3 linked regions of the Homo sapiens genome follow. The protein of the gene in region 3 purifies or fractionates together with the protein of the main gene of each other region. This does not show direct contact. Each region holds a gene or a part of one and is shown on either strand. Other genes may lie near its edges. The genes, in order: SPSB1, SULT1A3 and TTC1.

What was found.
Region 1: the proteins of TTC1 (region 3) and SPSB1 purify together in Homo sapiens (co-immunoprecipitation; 2 studies listed by BioGRID and IntAct, with this or other methods). This does not show direct contact.
Region 2: the proteins of TTC1 (region 3) and SULT1A3 purify together in Homo sapiens (affinity purification with mass spectrometry, with the first as the bait; 2 studies listed by BioGRID). This does not show direct contact.

What each region holds. Positions count from the first base shown.
Region 1 is NC_000001.11:9,360,217-9,370,032, reverse strand, and holds the end of SPSB1 (SPRY domain-containing SOCS box protein 1), read right to left. Parts: intron 2,586-9,816; coding exon 2,458-2,585; 3' UTR 501-2,457; downstream 1-500. UniProt on the Homo sapiens protein: Substrate recognition component of a SCF-like ECS (Elongin BC-CUL2/5-SOCS-box protein) E3 ubiquitin-protein ligase complex which mediates the ubiquitination and subsequent proteasomal degradation of target proteins.
Region 2 is NC_000016.10:30,198,614-30,206,846, reverse strand, and holds SULT1A3 (sulfotransferase 1A3), read right to left. Parts: upstream 7,593-8,233; 5' UTR 7,520-7,592; intron 6,123-7,519; 5' UTR 6,119-6,122; coding exon 5,971-6,118; intron 5,867-5,970; coding exon 5,741-5,866; intron 5,652-5,740; coding exon 5,554-5,651; intron 4,158-5,553; coding exon 4,031-4,157; intron 3,936-4,030; coding exon 3,841-3,935; intron 3,343-3,840; coding exon 3,162-3,342; intron 3,040-3,161; coding exon 2,927-3,039; 3' UTR 2,537-2,926; downstream 1-2,536. UniProt on the Homo sapiens protein: Sulfotransferase that utilizes 3'-phospho-5'-adenylyl sulfate (PAPS) as sulfonate donor to catalyze the sulfate conjugation of phenolic monoamines (neurotransmitters such as dopamine, (R)-adrenaline/epinephrine, (R)-noradrenaline/norepinephrine and serotonin) and phenolic and catechol drugs.
Region 3 is NC_000005.10:160,010,216-160,022,892, reverse strand, and holds part of TTC1 (tetratricopeptide repeat protein 1), read right to left. Parts: intron 12,394-12,677; 5' UTR 12,365-12,393; coding exon 12,035-12,364; intron 8,235-12,034; exon of another isoform or gene 3,862-8,234; intron 1-3,861.

The sequences.
Region 1 (9,816 bases), on a different chromosome or scaffold from region 3:
ACATGGCTAGCAGAACAAGTTCACTCTGCAACAGTTCAGCAAACATCACCGTGCACTCAGCCCCAGGGGACACAAAGACGAATGAAGGACCTGCTCCTTCCCCTAGAGCCTGGACTCTGAGGACGCCCACAATGGCTCACACTCTGCTCCTAAAAAGCCCACGGTCAACTCAAGTTCTACAACCCCACAAACCAACCTGATGCGCTCACGAAGGCACAGAATCACTGTCTGTTAGACTTGGCAAGTTTCTGCAGCTTGGGCTGCCAGGCTGAGGAACTTCTGAAATGGGGATGAGGCTGTTCTGGGGTCCTCCCTCCAGGACTCTCCTTCTCCTTCTCTGTCTGGGGCTTTGCCTGGCATCCCACCCTCTGCCAAGGGGTGGTAGGGAGTCAGCCCATCATCTGCTGAAAACTGTGGGCCGTGGAGCTGGCTGGACCCAGGAGGGGTCAGCTATGTCTCTTTCCCCTCCCCCGAGGCACAAACGAGGAATTCAAAAATGGTTTGATATTTTAACAAACGTTCCTTTATTAGGTTACTGACTATTATCAACCATCATAAAATAGAACGGGAGTTTCAAAACTGTACAAGCCACAAGGCTCTGGGCTGGTAGGAAAGAAGGGTGGGGTCGAGGGTCCCAGGGTGTCGGGGGGTGGGAGATGCAGAGAGAGCTAGAGGGTCACCCGGCATCTGTGAGGACGGCTGGGTCAAGGCCATAAGCTGGGATCTGTACAAGGGAAACATTCATCAGAATGTGACCCACCTGAAACAGGAGGGAGGAAAATCTTTAAAAGTCTTACAGGTAAGGTCCCCTGCCCCGAAAAAAAAAACCGTCAAAATAATAAGGGGGTAATGTACATTTCTCACCCAGTCTTGGCACCAATTTTGTGCTTTAAAAAATATACTCCACTGTAAGATTTACTTAAAAAAAGGTACTCTACAGCAGCTGTTTAAAACATAATTCTTACAGACAAATATATATATATGTATGTATATATATTAAACATTTTAAACAAATAAAGTCATCTATTGTACCTGTGCAGAAATGAACCAAAGTTAGACTCTAAGAGAGTTAACTTCAAGCTCAAAGAAATGGCAAAGGCGGTGGCAGGTGCTGGGGTACGCTACGTGGAGGGGTTGCCAGGGATAGGGCACCCCTCTCTTCCGGCAGCCGAGCTACCCCTCTTGAGGCTCTGAGAGGGGTTGGGATGAACTGGGGCTGTTACCCTGGGTCCAGAGCCCCGGCTGGGGTGCTGAGCAGAGACCCGCGCTGGCTTCTGTGAGGCTCGACTCTGCTCCTGGTCTTCCCCATCCCACCCTGCCCCCGGCTTCTCGGGGAATGGAGACCCACTCGCCCTCCCTTCTTAGTTCTGGGGGTCCTCTGGCACACCCAGAGCTTCTGAGGATGCACTTGGGAAATCTCAGCTAGAAAAGCAAAAGCAAAATCAAACCCACATCAAAAGACCCACAGAAGACTAAAGAAATGCAACCCTGTGCAAGGGTGCCTGAGCCCAAGAGTTAGCTGGTTACCTGGAGACACAGGGGAATTGCTGCAGCCCTTCCAGACGGGCCCCCGAAGACACCCAGATTGCACGTGAGGCTATTTCTCCCTGAGGGGCCCGCTAGGGAACTTGGAGCAGAGCCCCCTGGAAACTGCAGGGCAAGGGACCCAGAGACATACTTGTGCCTGGGCACGTGTGCACATGTGCCCAGGGAGGGCGGGCGAGGCATACATATCCCAGGGAGGGCACAGGTGGAAGGAAAGTAACAGAACAGCCAGAGAGAGGGGACTGAAACAGGGTTTCCTTTCTAGATGGAATAAATAAATGGCTTTTGTTATTGTTAAAAGAATAAATACAGGGTACGGGGCACCGGCAGCCAGGATGGGTGCTGGGTGCTTATTTGCCTGCAGACAGTTCTTGGTTTCTGCCTTGGGGTCCATGGTGAGTTTTTGACGTCCTGAGCTTTATCTGCCATGGCATGGCCCCGCTGGGCACCCTGGGCCGGGCACCAGCCCTTGTCTAAGCACCTCTTAGTACCCCTGGTATCTGCTCTCAGAGCTGTGGTACCACCTGCCACCCCCACCACCCTGGGACCCCCAGGTGGCTGCAGCCTTCTCCCAGAGGTGTGGGAAGCACCCGTCCCACCCCGAGCAGATTGGAGCTCAATGTAGGGCTTTCGTAGGAGTTTATTCTCTGTGTCTTTTTTCAAAGAGGGGTTGTATACGGACGGCATGCAGGGATGCTGCCTTCTGCTGATGTCGGGAAGGGGGAAAGAGGAGCCTGTGTTGGAATCGGTCCTTGTCCCATGGAGGCAGCCACGGAGGATGAGGGAAGACCAGGGACCTCTGTCCATGGCTACGGATGCCGGTCCAAGGTGCAGGGTGCGGCGGCCCCAGCGGCAGGCGGCTCAGTGAGTTGGCACCAGGTGGCTGTCGCGCTGGCGGTATGATGGCGAACGTCACTGGTAGAGGAGGTAGGCCTTGAGGGAAGCCGGCAGCGGCAGCGTGTGGATCTCCCCCAGGCGCTCCCTCCCCAGGGCCAGGCGCACCGAGCGACGGCACAAATCCATGAGCGGCAGCGGCTCGGCTGGGGAGACAGAGAAACTGCAGGTCAGCGCAGCTTGGGTGGGTGTTCAGCAAACAGCGCTAACCACAGCAGCAATATTATCACTGATTAGTATTCACTCAAATCAGTAAAGAAACAATGAAAAATGCAATGCTTTTTCATTTTAAATTTAGCATGTGAATAGCTGCCACCAGGAGCCCACCCTGGGCTGGGCACCTGGGCGAGCCCTCTGCTAACACTCATTTAATCCTCACAGTGGTTTCTTATGAATGACTTAATAGTCACAGAGACACCATTACCTTCATCCCCATTTTACAGATGAGGAAACTGAGGGACAGAGTCTAAATGACTTGCCAGGGGTCGCCCTGCTGGCAGGAGATGCAGCTAGGATTCGAACCCAGGCGATCCCTGCTCTTCCCCACTGGTGACTCTGCCTGTCCAGGCAAGCAGCTGCCATTGGGGCCTGTCGGTCGGAACACATGGGAGCCAGCTCTTCCTGGCACGCACCCCCAGCACTAGCTTCAGGAAGGGAATCATTTTCTGTTACCAGCTGCTCTCAGATACCATTCTCACCTCTGTTTTAAAGCTGAAGACTAGCTGGGCATGGTGGTTCACGCTGGTAATCCCAGCATTTTGGGAGGCCAAGGTGGGTGGATCATTTGAGGCCAGGAGTTCAAGACCAGCCTGGCCAACATGGTGAAACCCCGTCTCTACTAAAAATACAAAAATTAGTTGGGCGTGGTGGTGTGTGCCTGTAATCCCAGCTACTCAGGAGTCTGAGGCAGGAGAATCGCTTGAACCTGGGAGATGGAGGTTGCAGTGGGCTGAGATCACGCCACTGCACTCTAGCTGGGCGACAGAGCAAGACTCGGTCCAAAAAAAAAAAAAAAAGAACTGAGGACACACAGGCACAGAGGGGACACCCAGTGTGCCAAGGTTCAGGGCTGGGATCTGAATCCAGGCAGCCTGGGCCCAGCGTCCATGCCCTTAGCCACTAACCATGCTGCAAAGGAAGACATGGCAAACCCTGTCCTGAATCATACGTGACAGGCCTGGCTGGCCCCACGGCCTGAAGGTGTCATTTCTGTGCCACATGGAGACAGAGAAACCCCGGGTGTCTGTGCTTCTGTCTGACAGTGAGGCTGAGGGCCCAGGCCAAGCTCAGGCCCCAGGAAACTGGAAATGCCAGCCCAGTTTCAGCTGATCCCCCAGAGCTGCCTGGGCCTTCTCCCCGCAACTGCCCCAGGCACATGGGGCTCTCTCACAGCCAGGGGAACTTGGGCAGAGCTGCCTCAGGCCCCAGGGTTACAGAGCGCTTCCAGCTGCAGCCTCCCAGGCACCTCCATCCTGTGTTCCCAGAGCGCCCAGCCTTGCCTTCCTACAAAGGAGGCTGAGTTCATTCAGCTGCATCTCAGATGAGCCGTCAGCTTCAGATCTCAGGAGTCTGAAACTCATGCCTTCCAAGGCTTCTGAGCGTTGGAAGGCTGCGCGGCCCTGCTCGCCCGCTTCGCCAGAGCAGACCCCTCTTTGCTCTCTTTCCTGAAACCAGGTAGGAGTGAGCACACCTGGACCTTCGTGGGGCCGCCCACGCTGTTCTGCAGATGGAAAGCCCTGAAACTAATGGATCTGAGGCTTCATCCACGGTCTCCCCTTGACTTTGAGACTCCTTTGTGAGCAAAATAGCCCCCAAAACTAAAAGGAACCCGCAAAACTCCATCCTACCAGTAAAAAGTGGATTAAAGTTCTTTAATATTCACCAATGTGTCTCAAATATACGAAAATCAATTACTGAAGACCAAACACTACGGGTGGGGCATGGCAGAATGGAGAGAGGCTGCTTATGGGTATAGGGTTTCTTTTTGGGGTGATGAAAATGTTCTAAAATTGTTTCCTACATCTCACCACGCAAGAGGCCACTGAATTGGATACTTTAATGGGTGAATTGTAAGGTATGTGAATTATAGCTCAGTAAAGCTGTTACAAAATAGAAGAATGGACCTTAGGCTTGATAATGCATTTACTAAACCCCAAGCTTTAAAAGAAGAGGGACCAGGTCAGGCACAGTGGCTCATACCTGTAATCCCAGCACTTTGGGAGGCCAAGGACAGAAGACTGCTTGAGCCCAGGAGTTTGAGACCAGCCTGAGCAACATAGGGAGACCTCATCGCTACAAAAAATAAAAATCAGCCAGGACTTGGGAGACTGAGGCGAGAGGATCGGTTGGGCCCAGGAGGTCAAGGCTGCAGTAAGCTGTGATTGTGCCACTGTATTCCAGCCTGCGTAACAGAGACCTTGTCTCAAAAATGAAAACAGGCCAGGTGTGGTGGCTCACGCCTGTAATCCCAGCACTTCGGGAGGCCGAGGCCGGCGCATTACCTGAGGGCAGGAGTTCAAGACCAGCCTGGCCAACATGGTGAACCCTCATCTCTACTAAAATTAGTATACAAAAATGAGCCAGGCATGGTGGCATGGGCCTGTAGTCCCGGCTACTCGGGAGGCTAAGGCAGGAGAATCACTTGAACCTGGGAGGTGGAGGTTGCAGTGACCCGAGATCACACCATCGCACTCCAGCCTGGGGTGACGGAGCAAGACTCTGTCTCAGAAAAACCAACAACAACAACGACAACAACAACAACAAAACAACAACAAAAAAACCCCAAAACTGAAAAAATAAATAAACAAAAGAAGAGGGACCACTGCTCTTCATCCCCCATGGACGGTCACAGCCACAGCTCCTGACAAGGAACTGAAATGTTCTGTATTTTTAATGGAGAATTTTGAAAGGGGGCCTTTCGTGGCCAGCTTAGGATGATTAAGAGGAGCTCTGATTGGAGACGAATGGAGGAATGAAATAACCTTGGGTTCTTTAAGGTCAAGGATCCCACAGACCCCTCGTGATGGGGTGGGACTGGGTTCCACCCACCCGGCTCCTCACAGGGTTGGGTTTCCCTCGGGTAAAACACCCAGCCTGGTGACTCCAGACCCTGCCCCGCAGCCTGACCTGGAGCACATCCCTCCGTCTGCCCGGACTTGTTTCCCCATCTGTAAGACACGGAATCCAGACCAGATTCTCCCCAAAGTCCCATGCAGCCAAGATCCTGAAGGCCAGAAGTGCTTATCGCAGCCTGTGGTCTGGCCTGGCTGTCGGGAGTAGGTCTTCTGCACAGAGGAGTGGGGAATTTGCAGGTGTGTTCTCTTCTCTGCTTGGGAGCGCGCCTGCATCTGGCCTGCATCAGGGCCAAGGGGTCTGGGCTGCCCTGAGCTCCCTCCCGGGAGAATGTGGCTCAGCCCCCGCCGGAAAGTGGAGGGGCTCTCCCTCGTGGCTGGAAAGCACCTGAGAAAGCTCCAAGAGCCACTGAATGTGGCCCAAGAGCCCTGCCAGGCTGCAGCAGTGAGGGCTGAGAGGGAGTTCAGTCACTACCCTCTTGGTGTAACGGGTTTCCAATCAACCCATGAAGAAATGTTTCTAGGCTGGACGCGGTGGCTTATGCCTGTAATCCCAGCACTTTGGGAGGCCGAGGTGGGTGATCACCTGAGGTCAGGAGTTTGAGACCAGCCTGGCCAGTGTGGCAAAACCTCATCTCTATTAAAAATACAAAAATTAGCTGGGTGTGGTCGTGCATGCCTGTAGTCCCAGCTACTTGGGAGTTTGAGGCAGGAGGATTGCTTGAACCTGGGAGGCAGAGGTTTGCAGTGAGCTGAGATTGCGCCACTGCACTACAGCCTGGGTGACAGAATGAGACTCCATCTCCAAAAAAAAAAAAATTTTCTAAAACTGCAGAGGCCCACATGAGCCCCCAGCTCCATCCAGTGCCTTATTTTGAGTGGCTGACACCGCAGCCCCAGCCCCAGCCATGGCCTGTGGGGCACCAGTCGTGTGCCTGATGGGGACTGTGACCCCAACCTACAGATAGGGAAATGGGCTTGGGGAGGTGAGAGTTACAGGTCCAAGGTCTGAGAGCCATGGACTCCAAAGGGATGAGGCCCTCCAGCTGCCACAATCCATCCCCTGTGAACGCAGCTGTGTGGGGTAGAGGACTTGCCACAGCCTGGCCATCTCTGGATCTCACTGAATAAACCAGTTAGGGATGGGTCATGGGATCCACCAAGACGGGCTAGAGAAGTGGCAGTGAATGGCTGCAGTGATGTGTTATGAGCTGAAAATAGGACCAGAGTCACCCAGGCATCCTGTGAATGGGTCTCTTCTCTGGGTCCTCAAGTACATAAACAGGTCACGCCTCCTTGATCTTGCAGGAGGAAACTGATGGCGCATAGGGCCCGGTCTAACTGCTTTCCAAAGGCTGGGCAGAGACCAAGAATGCATGGCCACAGAAACAGACGTGGGCTTCGTGCCGTGAAAAAATGCCCAGCCCCCATTTCAGCTGGTCACTACCAGTACCAGGGAGTTCTCCCCAACCTCCACACTCTTGACTGGGGGCTGCCAGCTTTGCACCCAGCTCCAGCCACAAACCCAGGTGCCTGCTGAAATCTACCGAGGGGGTGGGCACCTGCACTGTGGCCTGGGGCCTCTGGCTGCTATGCCCATCCCCAGGAAGCTTAGGCGCTCATTCATTTAAATAATTTCTGTGAATGAGAGTGCAATGCTGAATGAGCAGCAAAGAAATCAGGAAGTCAATCAGGCGCTATTTCTGGGAGCAGAAGCCTGAGGAACTGGAAGAGACAGTGCACCAGCTTCCACATTTCTGTGAGAAACGGCTACCTGGTGGCCCACGTGAACATGCACAGCCCCAGAGCCCCAACCCACAACTGTCTCACTGTTCCCCGAGAGATTTCAACCCAACTCAAGCCTCAAGAGTGTGGTGCTGTGCCCAGTTCACGGGCTGAGTGAACGAGCTGCAGAACGGTGAGGTCAAGGAAAAATGTTCCGCATCAGAGAATGCCCCGGCTTCCGCAATGTCCTCGCTGACAGCTGTCATGGCTCCTGTGGCTGGCCCTGCAAGCAGCTTGTGGGGACCACGCTCCAGGACATGGATTCTAGAATGTCACGGGTCGGGTGGCCATCATAGGATGTGTGTGTGTTTTCCTCTACACTACGCAGTTCTTACGAAAGAGCACAGCCAAACACAACGTGGAGCCTTTGTCCTTGTCAACTGGGGAAGGACGCCTGAGATCCACCTAGGTGATCAGACACCCTTGGTCCCCTATCCCCCCCAAACTCTGAGAGCCTGCGGTCCTCATATGACCAGAACTTCTGGAGGGTGTGGGGAATAGGGTCTGGGACAACCCCTCCCCGACATGGAAGGAAGGAAGGAAGGGAGGGAGGGAGGGTGGGTGGCCCTGGTGGCGGTGTATCAGTCTCCCGATGAGTAGCTCCCGGCAGAGTCCAGCTGGAGTGGAGTGCAGGAAGGAGGCACCCGGGAGGAGGCTCTGATCTTGAGGAGACGAGCTGACCTTCCCTGAACCTTCAACCACGACAAACCACACCAAACCCATCTGGGAGCCGTTAAAGAAAATTCGAAAATGCTGAACTGCATGGAAGATGCCTCCTCAGTGGGAGATGTCTTTAAAGCAGTGGGGGTAGAGCCAGAGGACCCACAAGGTCAGGGGCTCCCCCTGGACAGCCTGCCAGCCTGCTGCTTGCAAACAGGCCTTTCCACATCTCCAGGGAGGGTGGCGGGCAGGCCCGGGGTCAGGCCAGGCCCTGTGTCTCCCCACTCAGCAATGGCCATCTCCACTCCTGCCCTCCAGGAGAGAGAGGGAGAGTGACACAGCAGCCTCTCTGGCTGCATCCTCAGCACAAGGCCTTGTGCCTCGAGCCTTGAGGAGGAATCAGAGCACGGGGCCTGTGGCCCCAGCAGGCTGGACAGTGGGGAGGCCGCACAGGGAAACGTCGAGAACTCAGTACCCCTACTTCCGCCCGGCCACGGCCCCAGTGTAGAAGCCGGGACTCTGCTGCGGGGGGGTTCTGCCTGGCATGCAGGAAAGAGGCCACAGGGGACAGTGGGCTGGGAGACCCCCGGGAAGGCACACACGCAGGCAAACTGCTGGAGCTGCCCTACAAACAGCTGCCCCTCGTGGAAGTCGAATCCAGGGGTGGTGGGGACACTGATGATTCTCCAGATATCCCAGGGAGTGGAACTACCTCCACCTCCAAGACAGAGACAGCAAAGCCCCAGATCAGGTCTGCCACCAAGAAAACAGATCCGGCTGGGCATGGTGGCTCACGCCTGTAATCCTAGCACTTTGGAAGACCGAGGCAGGAGGACCACTTAGGAGCCCAGGAGTTTGAGACCAGCCTAGGCAACATAGTGAGACCCCATCTCTAAAAAAAAAAAAAAAAAAAAAAAAAAAGAAAATGACAGATCCAGCCATGCCTGGCCAGAGCCTCCATCTGTCATGCTCTGCTCCCGGGCAGACCCTGGGATTCGATCTCACCAGGACACCCCCCTTCTTTAGTTGTATTGGAAGGCAAAGCCAACTCTCCCGGGACGGGGGACTTGGGTGGGCTCTGACCTCACTATGGGCACCCCAGCATCGGTAGGGGTGACGTGAGAGGATGGAGCTCCGGGCTCATCTTTCACCCCCCACAGGTGGCAGCACAGGGAGAGGAAGGCCTCATGGAGATGGTCTACACTGGCTGCCTCCACATCTGAAGCGGGTTGACCAGTGTCCTCCAATTCATGTTTGCCCAGAACTTCAGAGTGGAGCCTTATCTGGAAACAGGGCCTTGCGGATGTACTTCATTATGACGAGGGCATAGTGGATTGGGGTGGGCCCTGAATCCAATGGCTGGTGTCCCTCTAAGAAGAGGAGGGGCCACGGAGAGACACATACACAGGTGGAGCACCCTGGGGAAACAGAGGCTGGGACTCAGGGAGGCATCTACAGACCAAGGGACGCCAAGGATTCCCGGCAGCCCCCAGGGGCGAGGGGAGGCATGGGGCGGGCTCCCCCTCAGAGCTCGGAGGCAGTCGAGCCCGCTACCATCCTGATCGCAGACACCTGGCCTCCTGAGCGCTTCTGCTGTTTTCAGCTGTCCTGCTTGTGGTAATGTGTTCAGCAGCTCCAGGAGACGAATACCCTGTCTGTCTTCCTCCAGCCACTCCATCAGGCTCCTCCCGTGCCCCCTGACCCAAGTGACTCTCCTCAAGGTCAACTGCCAATTCCTTGTTGCCAAAGCTGATGGACGGTTCTCAGCCGTCCATGTACTTGACCTGCTGCTACTTTGCCCTTCTGAAAGCCCCTTCCTCACTTGGCATCCAGGACACCAAAATCTACTGGGTCCCTTCAG
Region 2 (8,233 bases), on a different chromosome or scaffold from region 3:
CACTTCAGCCTCCAACTCCTGGGCTCAAGCGATCCTCCCACCTCAGCCTCCCCCGTAGCTGGGACTACAGGCATATGCCACCATGCCCGGCTTCTCAGAGCTGCAATTTTAAATTGGGAGCCAGGGAAGACCTCCCTGTGGAGGTGGCAGGTTATCAAGACTGAAGATGTAGAGAAGAACCTTCCAGTCAAAGGGAAAAGGCAGGTCCTGCTGTGCTCAGGAATGGCCAGAAGTACTATCATCCATCCCCATCTTAGAGATGTGGACAGGGCCGCAACAGTGTCAGGGCGTTTCCTGGCTCCTCAACAGCAGGATCCGAAGTCGTCTGGAGGATGTGCCGCTCTGCTTGGGGCGGACCTCCCCTGGAGCGCACCTCCCCTGGAGCGCGCGGACGCGCAGGGTGCACACAGCCCTCTTGGACCCCGGGACCGGCTCAGGCTCAGGCTCGGCGTCAGCAAAGGGACCTGCGCGGCGCCCTGGGGCGGAGGAGGCCCGACGGTCAGTGGCCAGTGCCGTGCGGCTGACGGAGGTCGGGGCGCAACGGGACCGGGAGGAGCGCCCAGGGCGGGGGTGCCAGGCCCCCTCCAACCGCGGCGGGGTTGGAGTCAAGGCGGCTCCGGGCGGGGGTCGGACCCCAAATCCAGGCCACAGGCCGCCGCCCGGTCTTCTTCTTTACCCGAAGGGCGGCCGCGGCGGATGGGAAGCCGTGCACGACGAGCACAATCTCCATGGGGAGGAGAACAGGAATGTTCCTGTGAGCCCCGCCGCGCCCTACCGCCAGCGCAGCCCAGCATCGCGGGTCCCCTCCTATCCCACCGGAGAACGGGGTCCTCACTCCCAGCTTCAGCCGAGCCCTGGCCCCGCAACTGCCTGAAGGCACGCCCCCTGCACCTGCCCACCTCAGGTCCCGCCTCCAGCCCAGGTACCCACCTGTTCTCATTCCTCTCCCTCCTGCGCTCCACCCGACCCCAGCGTGCCCCCCAAGACCCCTGCGCTGGACCCCAGCCTGGATCATCACCCTCGCCTCAGCCAGCTGCTCTCCGGAGTTCTAACGCCGAGATTCCCAGGGCACCGCCTCCCCGTTAGGCTCCTCCCCTGCGACAGCCTCCCCCCACCAACAGGCCTCGCCCGGGACGTCCCGCGCACGTCACAGACCTAGTGGGTCCCTCTCAGCAGGCTTGTGCCCCCCGGTTCCGCCTCCTCCAGGGAGCCTTCCTCCGGGCACAGAGACCCTCCCCCTCTTAACAGGGACCTCGGCCAATGGTCCGCCAAGCCCCGCCTTTTTTGCGGCCACCATTGTGCTGCTGGACGAACAGGGTTGACAGTGAGCCCCACGTAGACAGGGCCCGGGTACCAGGGATTCAGGCAGTAGAGCAGCTGGACGCTGAAGAGGCACCCGGCCTCGCCCCGATTCCCGCGGGACCCTTCGAATTTTAGGAACTTTTCACTAACGAAACACACTTCTGTGTCAGCACCGACATCAAGAAGAGAACCTCACCAGCACCTCAGAACCCGCTTTGTCCCTCCCTGGTTCCTTCCCCTGGGTGCCTGGTGTGCTGCCGTCTCACCCATATGTAGTTGAGCGCAGCAGCCCCTGTAGGACACCTGGCAGATCAGGTCACAGTCCTGCTGTGCCCTCGGGCTCACTCGGGAGCTGGGGGCTCCCAGGTGCTCCTCCAGCAGCTCAGTTCAGCATGCTGGGGGGTCAGGGCCAGCCCCTGTCCCTGGGGCCTCAGGCCTCCCTTTCTTCCCACAGTGGCCAAGATCGCGGGTCTCTACAATGACTTGGAGCCACCCCGGAAGACCATGCGCAGAGGGGTGCTGATGACCCTGCTGCAGCAGTCGGCCATGACCCTGCCCCTGTGGATTGGGAAGCCTGGTGACAAGTGAGGGCAGCAGCTGCGAGGAAGGGGCTGGTGCCCAGGGGCTGGGACTGATCCTTTGTTCCACTCACAGGCCCCCACCCCTCTGTGGGGCCATCCCTGCCTCAGGAGACTACGTGGCCAGACCTGGAGACAAGGTGGCTGCCCGGGTGAAGGCCGTGGATGGGGATGAGCAGTGGATCCTGGCCGAGGTGGTCAGTTACAGCCATGCCACCAACAAGTGAGTGACACCAGCCCCGGGGCTGCTCTCTGCCCTTCCTGTCCACCTGCCCCACAGCCCCAGGAGGACTATTCTATCCTGTTTGAAGACACCTCCTATGCAGACGGCTACTCCCCTCATCTCAGTGTGGCCCAGAGGTACCTGGTAGCTTCTAAGGAGCCCAAGAAAAAGTGACGCTGCCCGGCGGACTCGACGTCCTCCACCATCTTGGGGCAGGACAGCAGAGGATGTGCTGGGATTAAACAGACATCCCCCCTCCACACATCTCCTGGGTTTTACTTCTCCAAACCCTTCTCCCCTCCCCAGATATGGTGACCTGGGGAGCTGAAGGCTGGGGGAGAGGTGACCATATGTGGCCCCACCGGGCATTCACTCTTTCAGCTCAGAGTTTCTCTTCCTTTCCAATACAGGCTCTACATGAACACAAATCATATTTTATTTTAATTGAGCTTTATTTTCTTTGGAGGGAGGGTCTTGCTTGTCATCCAGGCTGTAGTGAATGGGCATGTCATAACTCACTGTATCCACAACCTCCTGGGCTGAAATGATCCTCCAGCCTCTGCTTCCCAAGTAGCTGGGACTACAGGTAAGTGCCAGCACATGTGGCTAATTTTTTTACATCTTTGTAGAGATGAGGTCTCACTATTTTACCAGGCTGGTCTCAAATTCGTGGCCTATTGTGATCCTACCAGCTCAACCTCCCAAATCGCTGGGATTGCAGACATGAGCCACTGTGCCTGACTCAAAAATCATACTTTATTCTTGAGCCCATTGGTCAGGGTAGATTCGCACACTCCCTCTGCAGTGACTCCAGGAGCCCCTCTCACAGCTCAGAGCGGAAGCTGAGGCTGCAGCCTGCCATCTTCTCCGCATAGTCCGCATCGAAGCGCTCATTCTGCGCCACGGTGAAGGTGGTCTTCCAGTCCCCAGCCATGCCTGGGGGAGGAAGGCAGGGAGCAAAGCTGGAGTCTCATCCCAGGGGAGGCCCCAAGTGCCTATGGGGAGGCTGCAGCTGCTGCTCCCACCCGCCCCAAACCCCCGTGCTGGCCAGCACCCACCTTTCCTCATGAAGGGGGAGATGCTGTGGTCCATGAGCTCCTGGGGGACGGTGGTGTAGTTGGTCATAGGGTTCTTCTTCATCTCCTTGAACGACGTGTGCTGAACCATGAAGTCCATGGTCTCCTCTGGCAGGGAGCGCCCCACAAACTCCAGGATCTTTTGAATCTCCCTTTTGGGGTTCTGAGCAGCAGAGGGCTCCTCAGTGGAGCAAAACAAAACGGGTCCCCCTCTCTAACCTCAGAGGGGATCTGGCCACTTCCCCTAGAAACCCCAAAGAGCCTCAACCCCTGGGGCCCTAGTCTCTGGAGTAAAATGAATTGATCTCTGCCCTGTGATCCCATCATGAACAGGGCTTGGCGCCTATGGGTGAGGACCGGGATGGTCTTCTTCCATGACTGTGGCCCTGGGTGGCACACCCTTTGGTGAGGATAAGCAATAGGACTAAGTATCTGATCCGTGGCCACCCATGCAGCTGACTCAGGTGCAGAAGATGAAAGCTGTGCCGAGCCTGCTGCCAGGTGGGGCTGCAGTGGGGGGGCCTGGGCCAGGGAGGTAGGATGGGGAATCCGGGCTTGCTGTGGGAGCCGCCCAGGGACGGGGCTGGGTGGCCTTGGTGGGTCCCTGTGAGGTGCCTGCCCCCAGGTGTCACATGGGGGGAAGCATCACAGTCGGTCTCACCTCCTTCATGTCTTCATAGAAGAGGTAGAGAACAGGGTGGGTGCGGCTCAGCTCCCACCACTCCTGCACGTGCTGGTACCAGGACCCGTAGGACACTAGAGAAGCGGGCAGGGGGCACCGACACAGGGTTGCTGTACGTTATAGCCACCACCCCTCGGCTTCACACCCTCCTTCCTCCAGTCAAGCCCACCTTCTCCAGCCATGAACTTTTCCAGGAAGCTGTCCCAGGTCCCAGGCTCAGGGTGCGCCTTTTCCATACGGTGGAAATGGTAGTAGGAGACCGCCACGTCCTTTGGGTTTCGGGCAACATAGACCACCTGCAGGGGCAGAGGACCCAGCCCCAGCACCATCACCACACAGCCCACCCCAGGCCAGCTCATCTGTTGAACTGGCAAAGGAGGAACCTGAGGCTTAGAGGCTGACTTGCTTGAGATCTCACTGCACAGGTAGGGCCAAGCTGGGATCTGAACCCTGCTCGGAAGCCAAAGTCCTGCCTGGTTCCTGAGACCATATTCTATACTAATATAATCTGCACCAATGCCATCATATCCTGATCTGGAGCAAGGCATGCCTGGTCCCCACCAGCTCCCCCTCCTCCGCTGACCTGTGAGCACCCACATGCTGCCTTTCTTAAGTGTGCACTGTAGAGACTCACTATCCTTGCATCAGACCCTCATCAGAGCAAGAGGCAGACAGTGTCCTCTCTCAAGATGTGATGAAGGCTGGGCGTGGTGGCTCATGCCTCTAATCCCGGCACTTTGGGAGGCCAAGGTGGCCAGATCACCTGAGGTCAGGAGTTCAAGACCAGCCTGACCAACATGGTGAAACCCCATCTCTACTAAAAATACAAAATTAGCCGGGCGTGGTGGCAGGTACCTGTAATCCCAGCTCCTTGGGAGGCTGAAGCAGGAGAATTGCTTGAACCCAGGAGGCGGTGGTTGCAGTGAACCGAGATCACACGATTGCGCTCTAGCCTCGGCAACAAGAGTGAAACTGTCTCAAAAAAAAAAAGGGCCAGGCGCGGTGGCTCACGCCTGTAATTCCAGCACTTTGTGAGGTCGAGGCAGGAGGATCACAAGGTCAAGAGTTTGAGATCCACTTGACCAACATGGTGAAACCCCGTCTCTACTAAAAAGAATACAAAAATTAGCCGGGTGTGGTAGCACACGCCTGTAATCCCAGCTACTCAGGAGGCTGAGGCAGGAGAATCACTTGAACTGGGGAGGCGGAGGTTGCAGTGAGCTGAGATCATGCCACTGCACTCCAGCCAGGGTGACAGAGCAAGACTCTGTCTCAAAAAAAAAAAAAGATGTGATGAGCCTGGCAGAAGCGAGGAGGCCCTTCCAGAAGAACAGGTACATGGCTGAGAGGGCACCTGAGCCCCCCTTCCTGGCTTTCCTTGCCAGTCAGTGGGAACTTTTTTTTTCGTAGAGATGGTTTTGCTGTGTTGCCCAGGCTGGAGTGCAGCAGCAGGATCATCAGGGCTCATTGCAGCTTCCTATTTGCATAAACAGTCCTCCCCGCTGAGCCTCCTAAGTAACTGGGAACAGTCTATGCCACCATACCAGGTTGTTAATTTTATTTTTGTAGAGATGGGATGTCATCTCTACAGCAATGTTGCCCAGGCTGGTCTCCATCTCTCGCCTTCAAGGGATCCTCCCTCCTCAGTCTCAAACTGGGATGACAGGTGTGAACCATTGAGCCCGGCCTCACCTTGACCTTCTGATCCAACAGAGTCTGAGGGAGCAGAGCCAGGGGCAGGTGTGACTTGATGAGCCGTGGGGGCGGTGTGTCTTTCAGAGTCTCCAGCCCTGAGTAGTGGGTCAGGGAAGGTCTGGTGAGCTGAAGCCCCAGCCCTGTCTTCCTCCACTTCCCTTACCCCCAGGACCCAGCCATGCACCTGAGGGTTCCCCTGGATCATTGACCTCAAGGAAGGGCACCCGTACGTAGATGGGAGCCCGGTTACACTTCTCTAGGTCGCCGCCCTGGTAGATCATGTCCAGTATCTGGCTCACCCAGGTGGTGCCTGGAGAGGGAGGGAGATAGGAGGTGAGCAGGCTGAGGGCACGACCTTGCTGACCAAGGTGGGGACTGCCGCCTGGGAGAGGGTGGGTGGCCCTCCTCACTTACCAGACTTGGGGTAGGTGTTGATGAGCAGGTCATCAGGTCGGGCTTGGAAGCTCTGCAGGGGCCCCAGTGCCTCTGCAAAGTACTTGATGAGCGGGACCCCCTTCACGTACTCCAGTGGCGGGCGGGAGGTGTCCTGGATCAGCTCCATGTTCCTGCATCAGGGGCCAGAGCCAGGCCCGTTCCCTTACCACCATCACAACAGCAAGAAAGTGGGATTCTCTCTTTTTTTTTTTTTTTTTTGAGATGGAGTCTCACTCTCACCCAAGCTGGAGTGCAGTGTGGCACAATCTCAGCTCACTGCAAACTCCACCTCTTGGGTTCAAGCAATCCTCCCGCCTCGGCATCCCAAGTAGCTGGGATTACAAGCATGTACAACCATGCTCAGCTAATTTTTTTTTTTCTTTAGTAGAGATGGGGTTTCACCATGTTGGCCAGGCTGGTCTAGAACTCCTGGCCTCAAGTGATTTGTCTACCTCAGCCTCCCAAAGTGCTGGGATTACAGGTGTGAGCCAGCACCCAGCTGCCCCTTTGCAGAGTTTTTGCTTTCAGGGAAGTCACTGAGGCCTAGGGAGGCTGAGTGACTTGCCCGCACTCACAAAGTCAGTCAGTGGCGGGGCTGGGGCTGAAACCAGGTCGTTCCCCAGCCTGGCCGCACCTTTCAGTCACCTGCAGAGCTGTTCAAAATCCCAGGGCCTGGGGCATAGTGCAGACCAGTGAAAGCACCCTCGTAGCGCGGGGCCCAGATATCAGGGTGTGTGAAGGTCTCCAGGAGAGTCCAGCTGTGCTGAGGAAGCTCTAGGGCCTGCCTGTGCTGTCTCCCTGCCAGCCAGCGCCCTTTGTCTCACCATTTCCTGCTGGGACCCCCAGCCTCCACCCAGTGCGCTCCTCTCCCCGATGCTCCCCTCCTTGAGCCCCCCTCATGCCCCTCACATGTGGAAACCTCCCAGGCCGGCCAGGTCTGTGATCCACTTGCCTGGCCACAGTCCATCTGGGCTCCAGAACAAACACAGCCCATTGAGCAACTAAGCTGGTACCAGGGGCTAGAGCCTCGTGCGGGAATGAAAACTGATGACTCATCAAAAGGAGGGGCCCAGGCAGGGTGACTCCCGCCTGTAATCCCAGAGCCTTGGGAGGCCAACGGGAAAGGATCCCTTGAGCCCTGGAGTTTGAGACCAACCTGGACAACAAAGCAAGACCTCTCCTCTACAAAAAATATTTTTCAAAATTAGCTGGGTGTGGTGGCTTGCTCTTGTAACCCCAGCTACTCAGGAGGCTGAGGCGGCAGGATTGCCTCAGCCTAGGAATTTGAGGCTGCAGTGGGCCAGGATCCCACTACACTCCAGCCTGGGTGACGGAGCAACACCCTGTCTCAAAAATACACAAAGGAAAAGAAGGAACGCAGGGGGATTCCGGCCAGGCTGGGTTGTCTAATTGAAATGGAATATCCATGGGAAAGGGCAGGGATGGCAGAGGCCTCGGCTTCTAGAATGTTGGAGCCACAAGCTGAGCAGGGTGAAGGTGCCCTGGGCCATTCCAACGTGTCACTCACCTGAGCTCTCGGGAACCTGACCTGTTCTCTCCTTGCCTGCAGGGGCTGAGTATGGGTGTGGTGTAGGGAGTGTAGGGCTGCTCTCTGCCCTGAGGGTTTTGAAGGTCCAGTGTGGGAGGGATCTAAAGTCAGGGCTGGGAACTCCAGGAAGGAAGGGGTGGGGTTGAGGGTGGGGAAGCTTCTCTATTACCCTCCTTACCACCACAGCTCCAGCCAAGCTTGGAGTGATCTGCAAACCCAATATGTGAGTTTAGTGTATAGAAAACACATGAATGAAAGGCAAAAGGGGCCAACATTGGTATTTGGGTTTTTTTTTTTTTGAGCTGTCACTAGGCTCCTGACCTTCCCTCTGAACTCCACCCTGCAGGGCAGGCCAACAGACAAGCTTTCTTTCTTTCTTTTTCTTTTTTTTATATGAGATGGAGACTCGCTCTCTCGCCCAGGCTGCAATGCAGTAGCACGATCTCCGCTCACTGTAACCTCCCCCTCCTGGGTTCAAGCGATTCTTCTGCCTCAGCCTCCCGAGTAGCTGGGATTACAGGTGCACACCACCACATCCGGTTAATTTTTGTATTTTTAGTAGAGACGGGGTTTTGCCATGTTGGCCAGGCTGGTCTCAAACTCCTGAGCTCAGATGATCCGCCCGCCTCGGCCTCCCAAAGTGCTGAGATTACAGGCATGAGCCACCATGCCTGGCCGACAAGCTTTCTCTAA
Region 3 (12,677 bases):
CATATGTGGGTTAATTTTCATTTAACTAACAAAGAAATAAAGGTGGAAACTATTACAAGTGTCCTTTCTGAATAAAATTAGCAAATCAAGGATTTAAATATTATAAACTTCTTTACATAAAGAAGATATTCTATAAAGAAGACAAATTACTGTAAATACTAGTTAGGATGAAAAATGGAAATGGTATGCTACTATTGCTAAGTGAAGAGTCTTCCTGTAAAGCAAATATCCATGACTTGGCTATAATCTTACCTTGTAATTTCCTATTTACTAACATAGTACCCCTATCTGCTTAATTACCTATACTATATTAGATGCCTGATTCCATGGCTGTGTAACTCATTCAATGAGCTAAAACTCATAATACTTATTATGTGCCAAACATTGTGCTAAGAGCTTCAAATGGATTGATTCACTTTCTTAAAATATTAGAAGTAGCTTGAATATAATTTTTTAATTGACAACAAAAAAACCACCCTCCAAAAAACCCAAAAATCCAAGCTAGAGAACTTCAACTGATATAATTTAAAATCCTGGGTAGCATGGCAAAATGTTAGAAAGTGCTTCTCTAGTCCCTTATAAATAAACCACTCTTCAGCAGACTACAATGCAGTGGCTGAGTAGGGTATTTCTTTTACTTTAGGTCAGTGAATACAACATAAACACACTTGACTTTGAGCTTATAAGTGTATACCCCATCTATCATTATTAAATAGTTAAAAACTTGCATGAAATACATTTAAAAAATAATCTCATATTTAAATAATCCTATGGTAAGCATGTGCTCAACAGACAAACAGGGGGAAAACCAAGACTCTCACTCCGGCAAGCTTATGTCCATATTATAAATCTATCAGCAGCTCTCTGCTGCCCTCTGCAGTTTTGTGAAGTAATTGCTACAAAATAAAACGGCATACACTTTATGCCAAGCACAGTACCCAGGGATCACAGTACCCAGAGATCAATAGCTGGAGTAAAAGAGAGCGTAAAGAGAGGTACATACTTGCTCAACTGCTGGAAAGTGGAGGCACATGCAACAAAACTTTCTGCTTTAGTCTTATCTAGGTGGGACAAGAAAACTACACTTGGAATGCAAATACTGGAAGGGCTAGGGACATCAGTTCTATAATTATTTTGAAGGGAATTCCTTATCATTAAAAAAATAAGCTTTTGGTTTTGTCTTCTTTGAAATCAGATATCACTTGCTTTACATACATAAAGACATATCTGTTCTTTCCACAAGTCACCTTTACAGGTCCTCTAGGGAGGCATGAGGGAGGATCTTTGGATCTAAGCCACAGTTAGAACCTGCCTCTCAGTAGGTGTTATCCTTCTGAGGAAAAAAATGACTGATCTATGAGGAATTAATCTTGGAAATAGTCCCTTGTTTCTTAAATCAGAAAATTCTATTTCCCAAAACTCAATCTTTAACAGAAATAAATTTTCTATGTCAGGACTGCTTAAATTCGGCCCAACAAGTTGTTTTTAGACCTTGATCAACGGATGTAGGTAAAAGAAAACCTCCTATTCAGTTCTTCCGATGTTGGATGCAGTCAATGTACGGGTTAGGTCAATACTTCTTGTTTTGGAAGCTTAGTCATCTGTGTCCATCTGGATCTGTTTCCCATGGTGTGGCCACAGTTCTTCCTATATCAAAATTACCTGGGAGGCTTGCTAACAAAACAGATGCCTGGTTGTTGCCTCACAGGTGTGTGGTGTCAGACACTTCTCAGGCTGTGCATGGTTAATACATTTCCTGTGATGCTTAGACACAATAAAGTCTGGAAACCACTGATCTACACAAAGTGACCTTTCTTAATAAACACAGGAAATACTGAACGTCATTTTAACTTTTCTGCCAGCAAATAATGTAAACACACCTCACTAACTTCCAAATGTTTTAGAGCAGCGGTCCCTACCCTTTTTGGCACCAGGGACTGCTCTTGTGGGGAACTATTTTTCCACGGACTAGGGTCTTGGGGAAGGGGGTGTTCATAATGATTCAAGCACATTACATTTATTGTGTACTTTATAATTATTAAACTGTAATATATAATCAAATAGTTATACAATTCACCATAATGTAGAATCAGTGGGAGCCCTAAGCTTGTTTTCCTGCAACTAGACGGTCCTACCTGGGGGTGATGAGAGACAGTGATAGACTATCAGGCATTAGATTCTTGTAAGGAGCAGGCAACACAGATCCCTTGCATGTGCAATTCACAACAGGGTTCACAAGCCTACGAGAATCTAATGCTACCATGGATATGACATGAGGTGGAGCTCAGACAGTAATGCAAGCGATGGGAAGTGGCTGTAAATACAGATGAAGCTTCGCTCACTAGCCTGCTGCTCACTTCCTGCTGTGTGGCTGGGTTCCTTACAGGCCACAGACTGGTATCAGTACATGGCCGGGGGTTGACGACCCCTGTTTTAGAGCAAGCAACCCTTATTTCCACTGGTTTAAACTTAGCATCAGGCCAGGCAGGGTGGTTCATTCCTGTAATCCCAGCACTTTGGGAGGCCAAGTGAAAGGGCCTCTACAAAAATAAAAATAAACAAACTTGGGATCAGAAATCTAAGCTCCTTCTAGGATTTGATTTAATCGTTTGTAGACAGCATTAAGTTCAACAGTGGTAACTCTAAGAAGTTGGTAAAACTGACCACCTTAGTTCCAAAGGATGCCTATTAGAAATGAAAGAAAAGGAGGCTGGGGCGGGCGGATCACTTGAGGTCAGGAGTTCGAGACCAGCCTGGCCAACATGGTGAAACTCCGTCTCTACTAAAAATACAAAAATTAGCTGGGTGTGGTGGTGGGCACCTGTAATCCCAGCTACTTGGGAGGCTGAGGCAGGAGAATCACTTGAACCTGGGAGGCAGAGGTTGCAGTGAACCAAGATCATGCCACTGTACTCCAGTCTGGGCGACAGGGCAAGACTCTGTCTCAAAATAAACAAACAGAAAACAACAACAACAAAAAGAAAACAAGAAATGAAAGAAAAGGGAGGCAGGAGGCAGGGCACAGTGGCTCATGCCTATAATCCCAGAACTTTGGGAGGCCGAGGTGGGTGGATCATGATGTGAGTTCGAGACCAGCCTGGCCAATATGGTGAAACCCAGTCTCTAGTAAAAATACAAAAATTAGCTGGGTGTGGTGGCACACGCCTGTAGCCCCAGCTACTCGGGAGGCAGAGAGAGAATCGCTTGAATCCGGGAGGCGGAGGTTGCAGTGAGCAGAGATCGCACCGCTGCACTCCAGCTTGGGCAACAGAGAGGGAATATCCATCTCAAAAAAAAAAAAAAAAAAAAAAAGAATGAAAGAAAAGGGAAACAACAAAATCAGAAAGGTTGCTCATGACGTTAACAGGACTATGCAGGCCACTATGGAAGAAGTTACTGAGAACTTTTTGGAAGCAATCGAGAGTATTCCCTGCAAACACATCCACAGCCACAACATTAATTAGATTATGAAAATGGTGCAATAGGGTGGCAGAAACATGGAAATCCAAAAGATTAAGTAATGTGGAATTTAGGAAAAATGACAGAGGGAAGAGACTGAAATATAACATCTGTTCTAAACTGAAACTTCTAAGCTTTGATAATGGTTCCTAAAGAGAAAATGACCTTAAAGAATAATCCTTAAAACTTTCAGAGCCTAATGTTTTAAAATCCCAGATACCAGGCATTCTGAATCCATGTTCACCAAGCAACAGACTTTTGGATCCCTTATGTGTACATGTAAATGAATACCATTTGCAAACCACTAGTGAAAGGGAGCAAACCCATTGAAATGACTAAATCTGCATTTTGGCTTACAAATAAAAAATGTTTGTTTGCAGGAAAGAATTAAATCACCAGAACCTGGATAAGTTCAAAGTTCCTTCATCTTCTTCATATTAATAAAGGCCACACCATCCATCCAGTAGCTGAAGACAAGGAATCATTCTAACGTCTCACTCCATCCCGCCAATCGAATCCACTGCAATGTGTGGTCTGCTTTACCTCTGAAATATATCCCAAAATCATACACTTCTCTTCAGATCCACAGTTCAAGCTACTATCATCTTCACTGGGCTACTGCATTAGAGCCTAATTGGGCTCAAATGTTCTATTCATGTCCCTCCTCCATCCTCATACCCCTCCATTCTCTGTATAAGAACTGAATTCTCTTATTAAAATGTAAATAACTTCCGTCTCTCCCTGGCTTAAAATTATCCATCTGTTTCCTTCTGCACTTGGAAAAAACTTCAAGTTCTTTACTACGGCTTAGGAACTATTCCATAATCAGACCCTTGCCTACTATCAGCCCACTCTCTTCCTTAATCATCATGCTTCAGCCATCGGCTCTTCCATTCCTTGAACATGCCAAAACACCAAACTTGTTGTTACTTTAGGGCTTTATTCAACTGCTCTCTTTGTCTGCAATGCTTCCCTCTCAGACGGTCACACATTTGGCTGCTCCCAGTGCCACCCTCCCCTAAGTCTCTGTTGAGAGGCCACCTCTCCAGAGAGGCTTTCCTGACCAGCCAATCTAAAGCAGTCCTCTCCACCTGTCTTAGTCAGGTTGCTATAACAAAATAACAGACTCAGTAATTTATAAATAATAGAAATTTATTTTGCACAGCTCTAGGGGCTGGAAATTCCAAGATCAAGGCACCAGCAGATTTCGCGTCTGGTAAGGGGCTTGTTCTTTGCTTCAATATGGTGCCTTCTTTCTGCATCCTCACTTTGTGGAAGGGGAGTAGAAGGGCCCAACAGGTTCCCTCAAGTCTTTTATTGGTATACTTTATAAGGATACTAATTCTTCTAATCACCTTCTAAAGGCTCCACCTCTTAATACTACACATTGAGGATTAAGTTCAACATGAATTTTGGAGGAAAACATTCAAACCATAGCACCATCCTTCCAACCCAACCCATCCTTCATGTTAACATTTTGTCCTAATTCTCCAATGAGAGAACAGAAACCCTGTCTTGTTCACCACTGTATCCCTCAGGGCCTCAAACAATGTCTAGTGGGTGGAAGAAATGTAAATATTACTTGAATAAATGTGAGAAAAAAATTTCTGTAACTTATAAGGCCAATTATTGGCTCTCATGGGGGAGAAAAAGATGCTATTCATTCAACAGCTATTTAATGAAGGAAGATTGTGCAAAACCTGTGACAGTGGTCCTCAAGCCTCAGCATGTGCATATGAATTACCTAGGAAATTTACACATGAGACCTAAGAAACTGCACTGTGACAAGCAGTCCATAAAAGGCGATTTTCTTATGGAATCAATACTAGCATTCTGCAGTATGTGCCATAGGTCCTAATACTATAAACACTTGCTATGGTCTGAATGTGTCCCTCCAAAATTCATGTTGAAATAATCCCCATTGTGTTGGTATTAAGAGGTGCGTCCTTTTGGGATGTGATTAAGTCATAAGGGTTCCAACCTCATGAATGGATTAGTGTCCTAATAAAAGAGGTTGAAGGGAGCTGCCCTGCCCCTGCTGCCATGTAGGGACACAAATGGTGCCATCTGTAAGGAAGAGGCCCTCACCAGACACTAAAATTGCTGGCACCTTGATCTTGGACTTCTCAGCCTCCAGAATTATGAGCAATAAATTTCTATTATTTATAAGTTATCCAGTCTAAGGTATTTTGTTATAGCAGCTCCAACACACTAAGATAGAATTTTTGTATCATAATGTTATTATTGCAATTCTCTTCTGCTGCTACATTTGTCCTTCACCTTAGCCAAGCCTCTCAGAACCAGTTATTTGCTTCACATACCTAGTACATCTCAAATGTTAGCTAAAATTCCATTCCTGTGGGTAGTTATATCTACATTTAAGCTTTCACAAATAGTTAAGATTTACTGCTGAAATAAACACACGAATACACTATACTCTCTGAGAGCTTTTCCTGTTTTTACCAAATCTTAACTGCTTTCCTCCTCAATTATTCTTGATTTATGAGTCCTGCTGAGAAGTGACACTACACTTGAGCGTGAATTATCTTCCCAGCCACAGGACAAGTGAAGTTAGCTTGATTAACAGACTTTGGCTACTATTATTTGGTTGTGTCCAACAAGAAACCTTTAATACTACATAGACCCTGTACGGAATAGCACTTCTTTCCCAAATCATCAGGGGTCAGCTTCATGTGCTTTTGTGGTAGGGCACACAGTTTGGTTGTAAAGTAATCAATTTTTATTTATTTATATTCTTAAAATGGAATAATGTAATACAGGCTTACTGAAAAAAAAAGCAAATATTACAAAATTGCATTACATATAAATTAAAATTCCCTAATAATCATACCTCTCAAAGTTACTTACTGCTTATACTTTGGTGTATATCCTTCAAATTTGTATGTATAAACATATTTTCACATAGCCTTAAAAGAAATCATCACTGTTGTATAACCTGATTAATTAATTTGACATTATATTACAGGCAGCTTCCCAGGTCAATACCTACGATTCATCTTTTTAAAAAAATTTTTTAAATTATTTATTTATTTATTGAGACAGAGTCTCATTCTGTCACCCAGGCTGGAGTGCAGTGGCGTGATCTCGGCTCTCTGCAACCTCCGCCTCCTAGGTTCAAGCAATTCTCGTGCCTCAGCCTTCTAAGTAGCTGGGACTATAGGTGTGCACCGCCATACCTGGCTAATTTTTGTATTTTTAGTAGAGATGGGGTTTCACCATGTTGGCCAGGCTGGTCTTGAATTCCTGGTCTTGAGTGGTCTGCCCACCTTGGCCTCCCAAAGTGCTGGGATTATAGGCATGAGCCACTGCACCCGGCCAAGATTTACCTTTAACAACTGCATTGTATACTACATAAATATAACAACAAAATTTAAGTAATACTCTGGGAAGAACACATTTTTCTCTCCTACTATACCCTCCCAATAGGTCTGACACCAGATGAGAGTGTTTTCCACACTAAACAATTCTCCAATGGACACCAACGGAGTGTCCTATAATTCAATTCAGTTCTGTCACTATCTCCAGGTAGACAGTGTCTGATCCCACAGGTTAAGAGTTTAGTCTCATAAGCCTGGCCCCACTTCAGACACTAATCACAAGTCCCAGGTTGTGACCTATGATTCCGACTGAATGGTTAGCACAGGGTTCTTACCACCCTCTCTGTGGGTTCAATAATTTGCTAGAATGGCTCACAGAACTCTGGGAAACACTTTACTTACACTTAGTAGTTTATTACAAAGGACATTATGAATGATATAGAACAGCCAGGTGAAGAGACACACAGGGAAAGGTAGAGGGAGAAGGGGTGCAGAGCTGCCACGCCCTCTCTGGGTGCTACCCTCTTAACACTTCCATGTGCTCATCAACCTGGAAGCTCATCAGATTTCTAGTTCAAGAGTTTTTATAGGCCAGGCGCAGCAGCTCACACCTGTAATCCTAGCACTGTGGGAAGCTGAGATGGGAATATTGCTTGAGTCCAGGAGTTCGAGACCAGCCTGGGCAACATAGTAAGACTTCATTTCAAACACAAAAAAATTTAGCAAGGTGTGGTGGAAGGCGCCTGTGGTCCCAGCCACTTGGGACATTGATGTAGGAGGATTGCTTGAGCCCAGGAGGTTGAAGCCTCCAGTGAACTATGATCGCACCTCTGCACTCCAGCCTGGGCAACAGAGCGAGACTTGGCTCAAAACACAAGAAGAAAAAAGCTTTAATGGAGCTTAATCTCCAGCACTTGCCCTCCTCCTTTCCTGGATTTTGGTAGGTGGTGCCAAAAGTTCCAACCCTCTAAAACTCTAATCACTTAGTCTTTTTGGTGACTGGCCCCATCCTTCCTTAGGCTATAGATAGGCCAGATCCTAAAAGTTATCTCATTAGGATGAACTCAGGTGTTATCAAAAGGGGTACATTAAGAATAACAAAAAAATACACTACACTATCAGAAAATTCCAAGGGTTCTAGTGGCTCTGTAACAGGAACCAGGGACAAAGACCAAATAAATTTACTATACTACAAATACCCTGTTTAACATTGTCTAGCTTTCCAAAATTATGAATGATGCTGCAACACATCTATGTATATACATTTGTGTATATTTCTAATAATTTCCTTGAAATAAATGGCTACAAGAGAATCAGCGTTAATGCTGTCATGTCCAATATGGTACTTACTAGCCACATGTGACGATTTTAAAATTATTTATTTATTCATTTTGAGACAAGGTCTCACTCTGTTGCACAGGCTGGGGTGCAGTGGCGTGATCATGGCTCACTGCAGCCTTGACTTCCCAGGCTCCAGGGATCCTCCCACCTCAGCCTCCTGAGTGGTGGGGCTACAGGCTTGTGCCACACGTGATTATTTTTATTTTTAAAGGCTTTTTAAAAAATTTTAATTAAAAAAAAATTTTTTTTTTTTTGGAAAGACAGGGTCTCACTATGTTGCCCAGGCTGGTCTCAAACTCCTGGGCTCAAGTGATCCTCCAGCCTCAGCCTCCCAAGTGCTGGGATTATAGGAATGAGCCACTATGCCTGGCCCATGTGACTATTTATTTATTTTCTGAGACGGAGTTTTGCTCTTGTCTCCCAGGCTGGAGTGCAATGGCCCAATCTCGGCTCACTGCAACCTCGACCTCCTGGGTTCAAGCAATTCTCCTGCCTCATCCTCCTGAGTAGTTGCGATTACAGGAGCCCGCCACCAGGCCTGGCTAATTTTTTAATTTTTGGTAGAGATGGGGTTTCACTATGTTGGCCAGGCTGGTCTCGGGTCGAACTCCTGACCTTAGGTGATCTGCCTGCCTCAGCCTCCCAGAGTGCTGGGATTATAGGTGTGAGCCATCCCGTATGACTATTTAAATTAATTACAATAAAATTCAGTTCCTCAGCCGTAATAGCCACATTTCAAGTGCTCAATAGCCTGATGTAGTCAGCAGCTACCATACTGCATGGTGCAGGATGTAGAACATTCCTATCCTTGTAGAAGAGTCTATTGATAGCCCTATCTAAAGAAATGGTCACATAAAAATTTGGTATCTGCATCCCATGAAGTGACATAACAATTTAAATTCTCAATATTAGTATATGAGTTCCAACATCCTCTCCTTGTCAACATCAGATCAATATTCTGATCTGATAGATGAGACATAATGTTTTAGTTAGTATTTTTTTTTTTTTTTTTGAGACAGAGTCTTGCTCTGTCACCCAGGCTGGAGTGCAGAGGCCTGATCTCAGCTCACTATAACCTCCATCTCCCAGGTTCAAGCGATTCTCCTGCCGCAGCCTCCCAAGTAGCTGGGATTACAGGCGCACACCACCACGTCCAGTTAATTTTTGTATTTTTAGTAGAGATGGGGTTCCATCATGTTGGTCAGGCTGGTCTCGAATTCCTGACCTCATGATCCGCCCGCCTCAGCCTCCCAAAGTGCTAGGATTACAGGCATGAGCCACCACGCCCAGCCTGTACTTTTCATCATTATTAATGAGGCTGAGTCTTTTCACATTTTTTGGCCATTTTTTTTTTTTAGTCATTGTTGAACTATCTGAACTTTATTTTAAAAGATTCAAATATAACACTATCCTGTTTCTGATGAGCTATTAAAGCCAAACCATATATGTAGAAGACATTTCTTCAATCTGTTTCGCTGGCTTCTTGAAAATTTTGGAAAGATATTTATCAAAATAGCATACAAACACCTAATAAGAGTAGTACCACAGTTAGCTGAAGGCAATCTGCACTCTTATAGGTTGTTTCCTTAAAGTAGAGTCAGTGGCTTACATTTCTCTAAATAATAAGACTAGCACTGCAGTATGTTACTGTTATGAGATATTCTTACAAATTTTCAAATTAGCTATGAAAACACTTAGACTGATATATAAATGAATAGAAAATATTTATGTTTTAAACATGAATACTACTGTATGATTATGTTTATATGAATGTCTGGAACAGGAAAAAACCACCTATGGGACAGGAATCAGAAGAGTGGTTAACCAGAGACTGGCAGGGTTGGGAAAGGAATGACTGATAAAGCACACAAATGGAGTTTCTGACATGATGGAAATGTTCTCTATCTTGATAGAAACGTGAACTATGCAGGTGTATACAATTGTCAAACTCACTGCATTCTACACATGAGAACTGATATACAGTTTCACTAAATTATATCTCAATTTTTAAAAGGAGGAAAAAAGTGAAAAAAAGTATTGTTCTACTTAGAATATTAAACTTACAGGCAATAAAAATAATTATCCTCACTGGGTGTGGTGGTTCACGCCTGTAATCCCAGCACTTTGGGAGGCCAAAGTGGGAGGACTGCTTGAGCCCAGGAGTTGGAGACCAGCCTTGGCAACATGGTGAGACACTGTCTCTACCAAAAAACCCACAAAAATTAGCCAGGCAGGGTGGTGCAAGCCTGTTGTCCCAGGTGCTCAGGAGGCTGAGGTGGGAGGATCCACTTGAGCCCAGGAGGTTGAAACTGCAGTGAGCCGTGATCACATCACTGCACTCCAGCCTGGATGACACAGTGAGATCCTGTCTTAAAAAAAAAAAAAATCATAAAAGTATTTATAGAACTTAAAGTATGATTTTCTGGCCTAGGAGACACAAAAAAAGTTTTACTAAATTAGAGGTAGGGATCAGACTTTGTGACACCTTGAGCCAAACCATTCAACTGTCAAATCCAGAGGGCACTAGAAAATTAATATAATTTCAGGGCAAAATATATTAAGGTATCAGAAAAGCACTACTAACTTTTTAACATAGATGCATAATCAGTGTTTCTAAAAAGCCTGAAACCTGTTATAATGTTATGGAACAGTAGTTAATTTTTTTGAGCTGTATTTGCTGTGGTAGTTTATGAACTTGGCTCACTTTTGCCCTTTTTCCTCCTGTTCTGGTGGTGCACACTAGCACAAAAACGAACACGTTCACATTAAAGCTAACTGATTTGATAATGAAAAGCGTCTAAGGAGAGAGAAAGAGAAGATGCTCCTACCCACCCCAGGCTACCTTCCCACCCCCACTGTTAGGCTTAGGCTGAACATTTATTATCTCATCTCAATACCAATGTATCACAACCTGTTCAGTGAGTGAGCTCCTTAGTGGCATAAACTACAATCTAGTTCAAGTTCTTTGTAGACAAACTCAAGACATTACAGTAACTCTTCAGAGACTACCTTGCTTGTGCAATCAGAAGGAAGTAGGACAGCAGGACTTCAGTCTCCAAAAGTGAAGGCTTGCCCAGTTAAGGGTGTGGCCCCAGGGCAAAGAAACAGGAGAGTGTACATTTTATTAGTCTATCTGCTTTGTAGGAAGACAGATGTTTTTGTTATTACATTATACATTATACTCTAGCTTTGGAATCCAACAGATTTGATTTGAGAATTAGTTTTGCAATTCATTAGGTGTTTGATCTTGGGCTAGTTACTTCATCCCTCTAAGCTGTTTCCTTATGGGAAATAACAGTATGTATCTCATAGGCATGTTGTGATGATTAATGAAAACACAAGTAACATTTTAAGTCAGTGGATGGCACATTGTAGGCATTCAACAAAGGATAGCTAGCTATAATCATACACAATTCTGTTTCTCAAGACCTCTGCAACCAAAACCCCACCAAGATATTCAGGCAGTCATATTTTGCTAACAAGGGATTAGCATAAACAGGAAATGTTCATAAACATAAATGTAGCATAAACATAAAAATGTTCATTACAGAAATCTCAGCAGCCAACCGTAGAAAAGTTCATAACAGAAAACTAAAAAGTATATATACATTTTGAAAATAAACAAAAAGACTGTTACATTACAGACTCCTGAAGTACAAGATGAACATAACTGAAGGTTCACAGAAAATAATGAAAATTTCTTTGTTAAGCAGACACACTCAAGTGCTTCCCTGTCACGCCACCGATTTATCTCAGATCCAACACTACTAAAGCCATAAGAAGACAAAGGGGCAAGTTATTCTTTACCACAGATGAGGTGGTCTATGATACAGTATCGACCACATTTTAAAATGCAGTGTAAGTGGCAGATCTTGCACAATAAATAAAATACTTACCTGTTTCTCTTCATCCGACATGTTTTTTTCCAGTTCTATTAGGTATTCTTCATCTAGTTCAGAGGAATTCACATCTTCATTAGATTTGTTCTCAACCTTGTCCGCTCCTGGCTCCTCCTCAAATGAGGCACTGCAGTCATGAAAACACTCCTCTTCTCCCTGGTCCTCCTGGAGATGGGCCTCATCATCCCTGAGCAGCTTACTCTGGGAATGCTGATTTTTGGGATCAGGAACTGGAGGGCCAGCACACTCGGCTTCCTGAGTATCTGTAACCTTCAAACCATTTAACAGATCCTCTGGAACCCCACAGTTCTCTGACTTCTCCCCCATGCTGCCCAGTGAGGGAGGTGACGCTAAAGCTGGGGGAAAACAAAACAAAACTGCTATATAATGGTGCTTGTATTTTTAAAAGTTCTGTTTCAAACCTAAACAAACCTCTGCATTACAGCCAAAAAACACACCGTAATTTCCTTTCACTGGAATTCATTATTTAAAAATACAGCTTATCATAAGTAATAATAATGTCAAATCGTCATTTTAACTGAGACCCCTTTTCTGGTCAAATCTGGTACCAGATTCTTTTTTTTTTTTTTTTTTTTTTGAGACTTAATCTCAGTCTGTCGCCCAGGCTGGAGTGCAGTGG